4 linked regions of the Homo sapiens genome follow. The protein of the gene in region 3 purifies or fractionates together with the protein of the main gene of each other region. This does not show direct contact. Each region holds a gene or a part of one and is shown on either strand. Other genes may lie near its edges.

What was found.
Region 1: the proteins of TSPAN2 (region 3) and KDSR purify together in Homo sapiens (affinity purification with mass spectrometry; one large-scale study listed by BioGRID and IntAct). This does not show direct contact.
Region 2: the proteins of TSPAN2 (region 3) and ALG11 purify together in Homo sapiens (affinity purification with mass spectrometry; one large-scale study listed by BioGRID and IntAct). This does not show direct contact.
Region 4: the proteins of TSPAN2 (region 3) and ARL6IP5 purify together in Homo sapiens (affinity purification with mass spectrometry; 2 studies listed by BioGRID and IntAct, with this or other methods). This does not show direct contact.

The regions. Positions count from the first base shown.
Region 1 is NC_000018.10:63,329,207-63,332,706, forward strand, and holds part of KDSR (3-ketodihydrosphingosine reductase), read right to left. Parts: intron 2,696-3,500; coding exon 2,576-2,695; 3' UTR 1-2,575.
Region 2 is NC_000013.11:52,018,898-52,022,397, reverse strand, and holds part of ALG11 (GDP-Man:Man(3)GlcNAc(2)-PP-Dol alpha-1,2-mannosyltransferase), read right to left. Parts: intron 3,486-3,500; coding exon 3,255-3,485; intron 1-3,254. UniProt on the Homo sapiens protein: GDP-Man:Man(3)GlcNAc(2)-PP-Dol alpha-1,2-mannosyltransferase that operates in the biosynthetic pathway of dolichol-linked oligosaccharides, the glycan precursors employed in protein asparagine (N)-glycosylation.
Region 3 is NC_000001.11:115,055,004-115,058,503, forward strand, and holds part of TSPAN2 (tetraspanin-2), read right to left. Parts: intron 2,606-3,500; coding exon 2,534-2,605; intron 1-2,533. UniProt on the Homo sapiens protein: May play a role in signalling in oligodendrocytes in the early stages of their terminal differentiation into myelin-forming glia and may also function in stabilizing the mature sheath.
Region 4 is NC_000003.12:69,094,937-69,098,436, reverse strand, and holds part of ARL6IP5 (PRA1 family protein 3), read right to left. Parts: intron 1-3,500. UniProt on the Homo sapiens protein: Regulates intracellular concentrations of taurine and glutamate. Negatively modulates SLC1A1/EAAC1 glutamate transport activity by decreasing its affinity for glutamate in a PKC activity-dependent manner.

The DNA.
Region 1 (3,500 bases), on a different chromosome or scaffold from region 3:
TATCCAAAACCCGCTGGGCTGGATGTGTTTCAGAATTCATAATCTTTGGGGTTTTAAAAAGGCAATATGGGCATATTTTGAATATTACAAAACACCTCCACAGCATCTAAGGGAAAACCTATAATCAAATCCATGGATATTTCTTCAGGGAAAATTAAGTCACAATGAAGTAGCATAAATATAAAGTACAATACTCTCACATCAGTTCAAGTCAGATTTTGCTGCCAAATGAATTACGGTATCAAATTTAGAAAAACACAAACCAACTTAGATTTCGAAGTTTCTTTGCTAAGGGACTGTAGCCCTTTAACATCTCTGACAAGGAAATTTCTTCTCTGACATGATGGTCTCTGCAAATCTGCTCTCATATTTCAGTGGAAATTGGGATAGGGACAATTGTCTTCTACCGCAAAACAGGGGCTCTCAACAGGTGCTCTTAAATTTATTCGGGTAGTAGATTACCATCTCACTGGAGGCAACAGGTTCTATGAGGATAATTTGAAAAAATATATTGAAATAACTATTTAATGTTATTAAATCAGACACTTTCTTGGACTAGATTCTAATATAGATCAGCAGTAGAAGGTGCCAACATTCGAGGAACATTTATGAGAAAAGAATAAAACTGAGAAACATCCAGACATTAATGCAATTGTTTTCTGCAAATTATAAAAAGCTATGATTCCATTTTAGCAGCTGCACAACGCAACTCGATATAATCTGCAAACTTTGGCTCTGTAAGACTGAAAGATTTATGAAACCATTCTGGCATCAACCCATCCTTACAAGCTGCAATGAAATCATTCCAAGCAATTTATATATTAAATAATAATTTCTTCTGTATCTATCAGTGTTTAAAATATGCTATTCTCAGATCTTAATAAAAACATGGGTTAAAGCCATAAAACATCTTATTTTTTAAAAAGTTAAGTCATTTAAAGTCAAGAGCTTCAAAAACTCAAGAGCAAAAAAAAGGTATGCTATAATTTTTAGGTCTTCAATTTTTGTATAGAGTTTTTATGTTTTTTAAGTTTTATTTTACAATTTAAGAAAGTTTCCTCTTCAAAAACAGAGGTCTTTTCTCACCGAAGTGATCTGGAATGTGCTACCGTATATGCAAGGAAGACAGGTTACAAGATCAAGGTGAAGGCAGCTCTCCTCAAGTCAGAGGAGTGTGAACAATGAGCAGGATGCAACGGGGAATGTTGGCTAAAACTCATCAGAGGCACTTGCTGTCAAAATCCACTAATGAACACAGATCCTATAACCTGGAAACAACATTCAGGGGCCAAGAGGGTTTCCAGGGCTACAGAGTTAGATGAGTGGGCTTCCTTAGCATGTGGTATAAAAATAATGTCTGCAGGTTCAGTGGGAGAGTCACATAAAGAACAGGTGATCATTTTATTTCAAAAGCAACTCTCTTCAAAATCAGCCTTGTCTTTTTTTCTTAATGAGCAAACTTTATACCATCATCAGCCTTTCCTAAAAGCTACATATATGCTCCGAGAAAAAGTCACACTTTTTAATTTTTTCATTTGCTTTAATTAATTCATGAGTTAAGTTAAAAAGTCAAGTCGAAAATTTTAGCTGGTCTTTTTTTTCCTTTTTTTTTTTTTTTACAAAAATATTACAGCAGTATAAGCAAAATTGGAAAGGAAGAGATGGGAAAAACAAGTAGATGCTAAAATGGGATAGGTGAACTTCAGGTCATCATGGTTATTGAAGGAACTGTAAATTCTTAAGCTTCTAGATTTTACCGCTCTTCAGAAAACATTTAAGGAGGCTGCCTTTCCCCATGAATGAGAAATGAAACGTTCCCTAAGCATTTGAGTCTAAAGACAAGAAAGCATTGCTTTTCCTACTGGAAAATATCTCTTTACTTCCCATTGCACTGCCCTCTCCCGTCCCCCTCGTAGCTTTATGGGATCAAAGAGAGAGAGAAGCCATGAGTTTCCACCAGCAGCAGAGTGAGTCCTGAGCACAACACAGGGCTGTCAGTGACATTCAGACTCACTGGCAATGGGTCCAACTCATCTTGAATAAAATACACAAAGAAAGAAAGAGAGAGAGAGAGAGAGACAGAGAGACAGAGAGACAGAGAGACAGAGAGACAGAGAGACAGAGAGAGAGAGAGAGAGAACCCGAGAAACCGAAAATTGTTTTTTTATGGAAGGTTTAAACAAAGTCCTCAAGATTTCTTTATGTGCCAGAAAGTACATTTCTGGACTTAATCTCTAGGGGGGCAAAAAAGAATAAATAGAAACAAATTTAATGATCATTCTGGAATCCTGTTCTTTACTTTGTTCACACGCTATTAATTCTCATACCTTCACCTCTCTACCACAAAGCCTAGAAAATCAAATGGTCTCCTATTCCATATTTGCATAGTATTAATAATACTGTCAGGAGGTGAACTTCTAGCCCCTTGCTTGCAGCCACATTCCTGAAGAGCACTGGTCCAATCTGACGTATTCGAAAACAATACATAAGTGTCTATAGGCCAAAAATTGGGTCCCATTTAGCAGCAAGCTGTTCAAATTATTTGGAAACAGTCTTCTTCCAAGGGGTAAGAAGATTAGGCAGTTTTGTCTGCATTTTCAGATTTTTCTCTCTGCATCATGCAGCGACGAACTATGCTGTCAAAACTTCCAAGGTAAAACAAAGCAATAGTGCGGAAAAGGCCCATGGTGACCACCTGCAAGATAAAGAGAGAGCTTTTAGTGCATCCAACGGTACAAGACTATTTCAAGGTACCTAGGTCTCTAACAAACAGTTTCTAAGACAAATCTTCTAGTCTGCTCTAAGGATGAATATAATGAAAACTCTGTAAATGTCAGTAAGCTGTGAGAACAGAATGTGTGTGCTCTGCACCGCTGGACAGCCCAGATACATAACAAAATATTTGTCCAATTAATAAATTCAAACCATAAGCAGAATAAAATATATATTGCTTGCAGTCTTAGGGTTATAATAGCTTTAAAAAGACCCACTGCAGCATCTCAAATAGCCAAACTACAATCAAGGCTTTTTTGGTTTGCAATTTATGTTCTGAGCATGAAAGCGAGACCCTATACTAGGTGCTGTGAACACTGTGGTGAGAGACACAGTCCCTGCCCTCAATGAGCTTATTCTCAGGCTGGAAAGACAAGTAAAATTGAAACTACTGCCTCAGGGTTGAGACCCGTGATTACTGATATCCTGTTGCTCAGGATGGAGTGCAGTGGCATGAACGCGGCTCACTATAGCTTTGACCTCCCAAACTCAAAGGATTCTCCTGCCTCATCCTCCCAAGCAGCTGGGACCATAGGCATGAGTCCCCGTGCATAAGAGAATGGAAAAATCAGGCCGGGCGCGGTGGCTCACGCCTGTAATCCCAGCACTTTGGGAGGCCGAGGCGGGTGGATCACGAGGTCAGGAGATTGAGACCATCCTGGCTAACACGGTGAAACCCCATCTCTACTAAAAATACAAAAAAATTATCCGCGTGTGGCGGTGTGCGC
Region 2 (3,500 bases), on a different chromosome or scaffold from region 3:
TCCATTTGTTTTTTCTTTCTTTTTTTAAGACAGGGTCTCGCTCTGTCTGTCGCCCAGGCGGGAGTACAGTGGCGTGATCTTGGCTTATTGTAGCCTCCACCTCTCGGGTTCAAGTGATTTTCGTGCCTCAGCCTCCTGAGAAGCTGGGATTACAGATGTGTGCCACCATGCCCAGCTAATTTTTGTATTTTTTAAGTAGAGAAGGGGTTTTGCCATGTTAACCAGGCTGGTCTCAAACTCCTGGCCTCAAGTGATCTGCCAGACTTGGCCTCCTGAAGTGCTGGGATTACAGGTGTGAGCCACTGTGCCCGGACGGGCCACAAATTCTTTGATACTTTTCTCACTGAGAGGTGGCATCTAAGTCCCCTCCCCTGGAATAACACCTGGCTCTGTGACTATTTTGACCAACAGAATATGGCAAAAGTGACATTGTGCCAGTTTCCCAACATAGACTCTAAGGGACTGGCAGCTCCTACTTCCTGTCTCCTGGAATGCTCATGCTAGGAGAAGACAGCTGTCATGTACGGAGTCCAACCAGCCCGAGATTGCTATGTTGTATGCAAGCACAACCAAGTCACATGAAGAAGCTCCTCAGTGAGAGAGATGCCCGACAGCCCCCAGCAGGTCCAGTTATCCCAGCCCAAGAACCAGAATGTGAGTGAAAAAGGCTTCAGATGCCTCCAGCCCCAGCTGCCATCTAATTGCAACAGTATGATGGAGACCAAACATGGCAGCCCCTAAACCATGTCACAGAACAGTAACCCCAAAACTGGTTTACTATAGCACTTAGAATAAAATCTAAACTAATTTCCCTGCTCACTCAAGTCCTGTGTGATCTGGAACCTGCCTCCCTCTGTCACCTCCCTTCCCATGCTCTCCTTTGCCCTCCAGGGTGCAGCCAAACTGGCATTCTTTTTTTTTAACACGCCAAGCTCCAACCAGCCTTAGGGGACTTGCAGTGGTTGTTCTCTCTACTCTGAATTCTCTTTTCTCATTTTCACTGTCTTTTCATAAGGCAGGCAGTTTAGCATGTGGTTCAGAACATGGGCTCTAGTGCCCCAGTTTTCTTCTTTGTCAAATGAGGATAATGGTAACAACTGCAAAAGGCTGTTCTGAGGATCAAGTGAGCTAACACATGTAAAGCACTTCAAACAATACCTAACATACAATCATCACGCAGTGAATGCAGCTGTTTTTGTCATTCAGATTTTGATTGTTATCAGATATTTCCCTGATCACTCTATCTAAAGTATCAAGTCACTCCTATATTACCCTATTTTAACTTTTTATATAGCACGTCTCACTATTTGATATTTTTCTTCTTTGCTTATTATCTTGTCTCTCTCAACTAAAATCAAACGTCCAGGAGAGAAGGACTTGATCGATCTTGTTCTCTTAATCTCAACCCCCAGAACAGTGCCTGACACATAGCAGGTCCCCAATAAATACTGCTAGGTCGAATGAAAAGTGCACTGTAGTATGTGTTGAGTTAGGAAAGGCTTGTAGAAATTAACTGGGGAGAAAAAGGTTATTTCAGAAGAAAAGAACACTATATAGAAAGGGAAGGACTCGAGAGAGAGCATGATGTGTTCAGGGAGCTGCTCCTTGTTCTGCATGTCAGAGTAAAGTACCTGTGAAGGAATGGGGAGGGATGAGAAACGCAATGTGGCCAGAGCAAGATGAAAAAGTATCTTCCAAGTCATATTAATGATTTGGTTTTTTTCTCCTTGTAGATGGGTTAGGAGTAATAGAGGCTGCTGGGGACTATGTGTACAGATATCATGAAACTTTACCACCGCCATCAAGAGGTAGATAATCTGGTTAGAGAAGAAAAAAGTATTATCAACGAGAGTAGGAAAAGCATCACGGAGTTGGGAATTATGAGAATTCTTTGTATTTAGGCAGTTACAGAAGATGGCAGAGCAAATACAGGGGTAGGGCCTGGAAGCTAGGATGGGCCAGGATTACAGAAAAGTATAGCTGAGGTAATTCTGTGTGAAGGCCTTGGCACTGAATGAAGGGTGTGTACCAGGAAGTAGGGTAACCATGAAGAGTAACAGTTTTCCTCATATGATAAAATAATGGAACCTACTATGCTTTTTCCTTTCTAAAAGAGAATCATAAATATTTTGGGGGTATGGGGGGTGGTGATGACGAAGCCTCAAATATTAAAAGATGTATAACACCATATTCCTTCTAACATGGTAAGTTGAGACTATCCAGCTGGTAATGATATAAAAATTTGAGTCAAATAGATACTTTCATAAAGATTATTCCTGTGTGCCACAACTGCCTGAAAGTATTCAGGCTTAAAGTGCTCTGACATACTTGGTATATTTCTGTCAATTACTTAATCTCTTCTGTATATGCTCTCCCAAGGGGACCAGTTATTCCCATTAATTTATGCCATAAAAGGGCAGATGTTTTCCCCATCCACTGTCCATTTCTTTCTTTCTTTTTTGTTTTCCCTTGAGACGGGTTCTCACTCTGTCACCCAGGCTGGAGTGCAGTCAGTGCACAATCATGGCTCACTGTAGCTTTGACTTCCCAGGCTCAGTCAATCTTTCCACCTCAGCCTCTGGAGAAGCTGGTGCGCATCACCATGCCCAGATAATTTTTTGTAGAGACAGGGTTTCGCCATGGTGCCCAGGCTGGTCTCAAACTCTTGGGCTCAAGTGATTCACCTGCCACGGCTTCACAAAGTACTGGGATTACTGGTGTGAGCCACCATGCCTGGGTTTGTCTATTTCTTTATCATAGTAACTAAAGTCAAATAAGATCATATAAGGTATGTGGGCACATGAAAGAAATATTTTCTTATTGAAGAACAGTTTAAAAAGGAATTCATTTTTTACTTTAGGTACTTTAGAAAGATGAGGCCGGGCACGGTGGCTCACACCTGTAATACCAACACTTTGGAAGGCCGAGGTGGGCGGATCACAAGGTCAGCAGATCGAGACCATCCTGGCTAACATGGTGAAACCCTGTCTCTACTAAAAATACAAAAAATTAGCCGGACGTGGTGGCGGGCACCTGTAGTCCCAGCTACTCGGGAGGCCGAGGCAGGAGAATGGCATGAACCTGGGAGGCGGAGCTTGCAGTGAGCCGACATCGTGCCACTGCACTCCAGCCTGGGTGACAGAGTAAGACTCTGTCTCAAAAAAAAAAAAAAAAAAAAAAAGATGAATTTCTGGATAATAATTTTTAAGAAATGGAACAATATAGCAAATTAGCTAAGAAAGATGGATACCTACTTTTTCTGCAGGGCTCTTAAAGCACACCATAAAACTCTTTCTCCTCCTCCACCAGCATTGCAGTATGGATGAAAAAATGCAATCACCATTTGATTTTTCCCATTTTTGCTAGTTGACACTAATTTTTTCTTTCTCTGTAGCAGCAGTCTGATTCCCCAAAGGACAATGACCAAACACACACATAAAGTTCCACATACAATGAGCCCAGGGAAGAATAATGAATAAAAAAACCTGAAATAAGAGGAC
Region 3 (3,500 bases):
AAATAATAATAAAAGACAGTTAACTTCATATCCTGCTTTGGGTCTTTCAGCTCCTCAGGAAGCCTGCACTGCCAGTTACTTTTTTTCCTTCCTATACATTCAGCCTCTCCTTATCCATTGACATTTCTACTTATCCTATCACCATGCTCAGTTCTTCAATCAAAACAAACAAAACAACACTCGAGACTGTCCTCCTCTAGTTCTGCCATTAGGCCCTCCTTCCCTTCATTGCCAGCTTCTTTTTGTAAAAAACAAATGTACAAAAGGTATATTGGCTTTAGTCACAAAAGGAATACATGCTTCTTGTAGAAATCTGGAAAAGAGATTTTTTTTTTTTTAAAAAGAAATGTCTGTATTCTCACCATAAAAGGTAATAAATTTGTTGGTGATACTTACACACACAAACACACCTACACCCTTAGGTCATTCTTTATATTCAACAGTGAGCTTTTTAAACTTAATATTACAACTTTAAAAATGCCTTGTTTCACTAAAAATTTCTTTGAAATCATGATTATGATGATTATTTTTTTTTTTGGAGACAGAGTCTCGCTCTCTCACCCAGGCTGTAGTGCAGTGGCGCGATCTCGGCTCACTGCAACCTCTGCCTCCCAGGTTCAAGTGATTCTCCTGCCTCAGCTTTCTGAGTAGCTGGGATCACAGGCACATGCCACCACGCCTGGCTAATTTTTGTATTTTTAGTAGACGGGATTTCACCATGTTGCCCAGGGTGGTCTTAAACTCCTGAGCTCAGGCAATCTGCCTGCCTCTGCCTCCCTAAGTGCTAGGATTACAGGTGAAATCATGATTCTTAATGGTGGTAAAACATTTCATCATATGAATATACTACAATTTATCCAAACAATCCCCTATTGCCACATATTAAGGGTCTGTCCAGTGTTTTGTTCTTATGAATAACATGTAATGAGCATGATTTGCACAAAAACGTCTGTCTGCATTTCTGATTCCTTTTCCTTAGAATAAACTCCGAGAAGTGGAATTTCTGGATAGAAGGGCATAAACATACTTAATCCTCTAGTCTTACATAGTCATACTGACCTTTAAAACTATTTACTAATTTCTCTGAAAATGCTCACGACATCACGTTTACCAAAACTGTGTATTATTGTTAAGGGAAAGGAAAAACACTTGGTCAATTTCATAGATTAAACAACAGCATCTCTTCATTTTAATTTGCTATTGATTTTAAATATTACTTTTAATTTTCTATATTTTCTATATGTTTAATGGTAATTTGGACTTTGACTTTTGTAAACTTTCTTTCTGTGTCCTTGGCTCAAATCGAAACTTCTTGAAAGGATGCTCTCTCTCCTCACATCTCGCTCTCTGAAACCTGGGCTCTGTCCTCAATCCATCCCTCACAGCACGTCACCAGTTGGTTCCTTGCATGCTAAATCCTGCCAGCTTTTCAGCAGTTATTAGTAGACCTTCTTAGGCTTTCAGTTCCCCACACAAACCATGTCATTTCTGCCTCTGTGTTGTTGCTTACGCTGGTCTCTCGGCACGCAGGCCTCCCCCTCCCGCTTTCTGCCCAATGCTTGCATAATTACTTTCCATTCTTGAAGATTTAGCTGAGACATCATTACCTCTGTCAGCCTTCCCCATCCCCCAGCCTCTCGCCTCTCCTAAGTGCGTTTCCCTCTGTGCTTTCCGAGCACGTTGCACATTCCATGCATTCCTAATCACTGGACCGTATGGACTTCATGTTCATCCCTCCTATCAGACTGCAATGCAAGCTCCTTGTGAGTAGGAACTTTTTCTCCTTCTCCTTTGCATCCACAGTGCCGAACATAAGGTAGGCAGCTGATCAATACTGAATTGCCCTCAACAGCAGCACCTGGGCCTGGTGACCATTCCCTCCCCTTCCCGTGCTGTCTCCTCACTTGTGTCTGGCCGCCCCTCCCAGTTTCCTTCTTTGGCATCTCTTCTTTTGCCCACCCTTAAATTGTCCCCCAAGGATCTATCCTCATCCTTCTTTTCTTCCAAGTCTAATGGATCAAATCCGTATTTATAGCTTTAAGTTTCCCATCAAGTGCTGACACTCAGACCTCTCTCCTGAGCCACAAACCAGATTTTCCAACTGCCTACTGGATATTTCCATTTGGAAGTGCCACTGGCTCCTCAAAATCACCATGTTAAACACAAAGCTCATTTTCTTTTCTCCACAATTGGCTCCTTTTCCTCTCTCCCTCAGCTCCATAAATGACACCATCATCTATGTAGGTGGTGAAGCCAAAAACCCAGTAATGGATTCTCCTCTCTTCTCTGGTCACCACTCCTGTAGTTGTCACTTTCTAAAGGGCCCTCTTTAACATCTCTTGCTAACAACAAGGACAGCAGCCTTCCCAATGGGTCTCTCAGCTCAACGCTATTCATTTTCCATCAATCCTCTATGCTGCCACTAGAGCAAATTCAGTAAAATGCAGATCCCATCCGAGATTCTACCTTCAATGGCTTCCTAAGCTAGCAGCATGATACTACAGGTAGAGTAAGAACCTTGGTAGAAGCTTACCTTGTGTCCTAGAAGCTCCTTTGGGCATGTAGGTTGGACCTGTTCGGAGCTTTCTTTTCCACAGCACTGAAACTAGAGAGTCAGAAAAGAGACTTCAGGACCAGGCGGGAGGAGTAGCAGCTACAAGTCTGGGCACCCTGCTAAGGACTGGGGTGCCGAGGCGGCAAAGCAGCTCCGAGGCCCAGTCACTGCAACCCAGACTGCTATTTCTGGAAGGAGAGTGAAGAATCACATAATCATGCTGGCAAAACAAGAAAATGACTTCGCTAAAGCCATCTGAGTTTATGATGGGAAGTGACTCAAGGCAACCCAAACAAGGCAAGAAGCTAATTGACAGTGTCTGTGTAAATTGCTACTTTTTAGAAAGGGGTTGGGGCTTTAGATTCCTTCTTTCAGACTGGGAGTCATTTAACCTGCTGAGGAGCTCAAGTTTTATGAGCTGCAGAAGGACTCATTAGCTGGGAATAGTCTGGGGAAGAGGGGAGAAGTGGCTGCAGGAAATTCCAGGGTCCAAAAGACCAGATTTGAAGATTGGCCAGCAAACAGGTGTCCTGCTTAGGCTAGCTGGCCCTTTAAGACAAAAGAACCTGTGTGCTGCTTCAGGTCCTGGCGGCAGCTGAGGTGAAACCGTATAAATGTATAAATGGTGGCCACTTTCCAAGACATACTTGTCCTAGACAAGAACTAGGTACCTGAAAACACCTGGCCCAGGAATTCACAGCTACTTCTTCATATCACAGTGTCTAAAAAATCAGAATAACTCTGGCCTGGCCCATCTCCTCTGTAAGCCTTCTGTGATTAACTGCATGTAGCTCTGAGCACTCCACGGACAGCACAGTCCCACTGAATGTTCCAGAAGGGAGTGTAGCCATCTCCTGTGACCCTTCATTCTACAAATGAGGGAGCTGCGTGGGTATCAGGGAGGCCAAGTAACTTGCTCAAGGTCACAAGGCTGTTGAATGGTAGA
Region 4 (3,500 bases), on a different chromosome or scaffold from region 3:
CCTGTCTCTACTAAAAATACAAAAAATTAGTTGGGCTCGGTGGCGGGAGCCTGTAATCTCAGCTACTCGGAGGCTGAGGCAGGAGAATTGCTTGAACCTGGGAGGCGGAGGTTGTAGTGAGCCGAGATGGTGCCATTGCACTCCAGCCTGGGCAACAAGAGCAAAACTATGTCTCAAAAAAAAAAAAAAAAAAAAAGCCAGGTATGGTGGCAGGCACCTGTAGTCCCAGTTACTTGGTAGGCTGAGGCAGGAGAATCACTTGAACCCGGGAGGCAGAGGGTGCAGTGAGCCGAGATTGCGCCACTGCACTCCAGCCTGGGTGACAGAGTGAGACTCTGTTTCCAAAAAAAAAAGAAATAGAAATTTCTATAATTAGTATATTATTTCATAATCAGAAATAAAATGAATATATAAAAAAGGAAATACAAAAACATAAAAGCAGCTGCTCTCCAACCCACAACCGCCGCTTGGCACAGACCAACCACAAAAGTCCATCTCTACTTGTCCCATCTCGCCAACAACATTAATGGAATTTCAGTTCATGAACCACAGCGAAGCTGTTCCTTCTCCAATCCAAATCCTGGTTTTCTGCTCATCCTCCAGATCCTCTTGTGCCAGTCTATAGCACCCCAGTGCCCCAACCTTCCCCAATACCCAGCACATGTGCTATTCTCTCTGCCCTCTTCCCCTCCCTCTTGGTTCTGTGTTACCTGGGTCTACTTGGCCTCTCTGCACTTTCTTTCTGTTTTATTTTATCTGGATTATGCCCTGTCTTCTGAGACAACCCCGGAATTGGTCTGGGAAAGAAAAAATTCCCTTATACGCCTGAGGAAGGAAAGAATCTGATGAATCAAAACCACAATCCCCTTCAGCAGGTTGTAGAGAGTGGAGAGTGAATGAAGAGGCCTTGAAACTCTTATAGATTAATATTATCTAATTCCCAGCATCACAAAAGATTCTAAGCCAGTGTGGTAGCTCATGTCTGTAATCCCAGCACTCTGGGAAGCCGAGGTGGCGGATGCATCGCTTGAGCCCAGGAGTTTGAGGCCATCCTAGGCAACATGGCGAAACCCCATCTCTCCAAAAAAAAAAAAAAACACCCCACAAAAATTAGCCAGGTGTGGCAGCACACACCTATAGTCCCCACTACTTGGAAAGCTGAGGTAGGAGGATCATCTGAGCTCAGAGGTCAAGGCTGCAGGGAGCTGTGATGGTGCCACTATACTCTAGCCTGGGTAACAGAGTGAGATCCTGTCTCAATTAAAAAATAAAAAGATACTTAGAGAAACTGAAAAATTATACCAAAGACTACAGTATAGTAGGATAAGGGGAGTTTATTTCCATTTGCTTATTTTTATTTTCATATTTTTTTCAATGGCCATGTATTCCTTGATGAATAAAAAAAATTGGTATTTAAAAATGAACAAATGAAATTGGGGAAAGGCTCCTGAATGTAAAAAACCCTTTACAAAGCCTTGACTTTGACCTATAACCTACCCAAATGTTTCTTCTGAGCCGTAAAGAAAAACAAAGATCGCCAGGTACAGTGGCTCACACCTGTAATCCCAGCACTTTGGGAGGCTGAGGCAGGTGGATCACAAGGTCAGGAGATCAAGACCATCCTGGTCAACATGGTGAAACCCCGTCTCTACTAAAAGTACAAAACTAAGCCTGGCTTGGTGGCATGTGCCTGTAATCCCAACTACTTGGGAGGCTGAGGCAGGAGAATTGCTTGAACCCGGGAGGCGGAGGCTGCAGTGAGCCGAGATTGTGCCACTGCACTCCAGCCTGGGTGACAGAGCGAGATTCCGTCTCAAAAAAAAAAAAAAAAAAAAAAAAGCAAAGCAAAACAAAGATCAAATCAACACAAAGAACTCAAATGGAGGATTGAAATTCAAGGAAATTCCTTTGCATACCCTGCAAGTAGGAGTGGGTTGGCTGGCAGCAAAGCATCAAAGGGCTCCTACTCAGTTCATTCTGGAATACTTATTAAAATAATAATTCATGAAGTGAAGCATATAACAAAATTCATGTCAAGCTGTTTTTATTTTCCTCTAGACAAGTAAAATACATATTTAGGTTGAGTGCCTAAAGTCCAGGACAAGGAACAATGAAAAATCCAGGCCTAACTCAAGCAATTCCAAATTTGTTTCACCTGTTCTGGTTGCTCATGTCCAAGAGAAAAGAACAGAGCCTGAAGTTCTATAGAACTGGTTTTAGTTCATAACCTGCCCAACAACAGTCTATAATTAGAAAGCAAGCAAGTTTCCAAGCTGGAAAAAAACTAACGAAGTTACTCTGAGCAGAAATTATTTTCTTCTGTATCTGATAAAATGTATACCACTCCAATGCCCTGGCACTTACCTGTATTTGGAACAAAAGACAGACAGACAGACAGACAGACACACACACACACACCCTCTACAGATTAACAGAAATTCTCAGAAATCTGGGAACCAGTTCTTGCCTGAGATGCTTTTTAGTCAACAGTTGGGCTGTTTATCACAGCAATCACGACAAACCCCAAAGACTTTTAGGACAAAACTTTCCATAAACATGCCACCCATCTTTCATGTAGACAGCTGCCTCTGTGGTCTGCTGGGTGGAGTTTCACTTACTGATAGTCCTAGAGTAAGAAAGAGGGCTGGGTGCGGTGGATCATAACTGTAATCCCAGAACTTTGGGAGGCTGAGGTGGGTGGATCAGCTGAAGCTAGGAGTTTGAGACCAGCCTGGCCAACATGGCGAAACCCCATCTCTACTAAAAACATAAAAATTAGCTGGGCGTGGTGGCGCATGCCTGTAATCCCAGCTGTTCAGGAGGCTGAGACACGAGAATCACTTGAACCTGGGAGGTGGAGGTTGAAGTGAGCTGAGATTGTGCCACTCCAGCGTGGGTGACAGAGCCAGACTCCGTCTCAAAAAAAAAAAAAAGAACGAGGGATGGTGAGAAAGAAGGGAGAAACAGCAGGACCTAGTTTTGCAACTCAAAAACCGTTATGTTTTTCTATTGTGAAATTAAAAATATATTAATACATATGTTTGTATATATTTTAATTATATATATTTAAAATATGAACATGTATTACCCAATTCCAATAAATAATTAATAAATCTTTCCCTATAATAGTTACACATTCTAGAGCAGTCATTTATGGTTATAAAAAGGTTTAGAATCCCATCACAGAAATTTTGTAGCAGTCTTCAAAGATGAATCAGTCTAGTCCAATTATACAGATAACTAAACTGAGGCCCAGAGAAGAAACATATCCAAAGGGATCCAGGAGAGAAACAAGAAAACAAGGGTGCCAGTTGTGGCAGCAACTCACAGTAGAACCCATTCTGTCATGTTAACCGGCTTTAAGGATTTCCCCCACACTCTAAGTAACCTACTATAACCAAGGATCATCCTGGAAAATCCCTCTGCACTCTCATTTCTCTCTGAAACAAGGTGGCTATTAGTGGGTGTGGATACAGGTCCTAAACTTCCCAACGTGATTC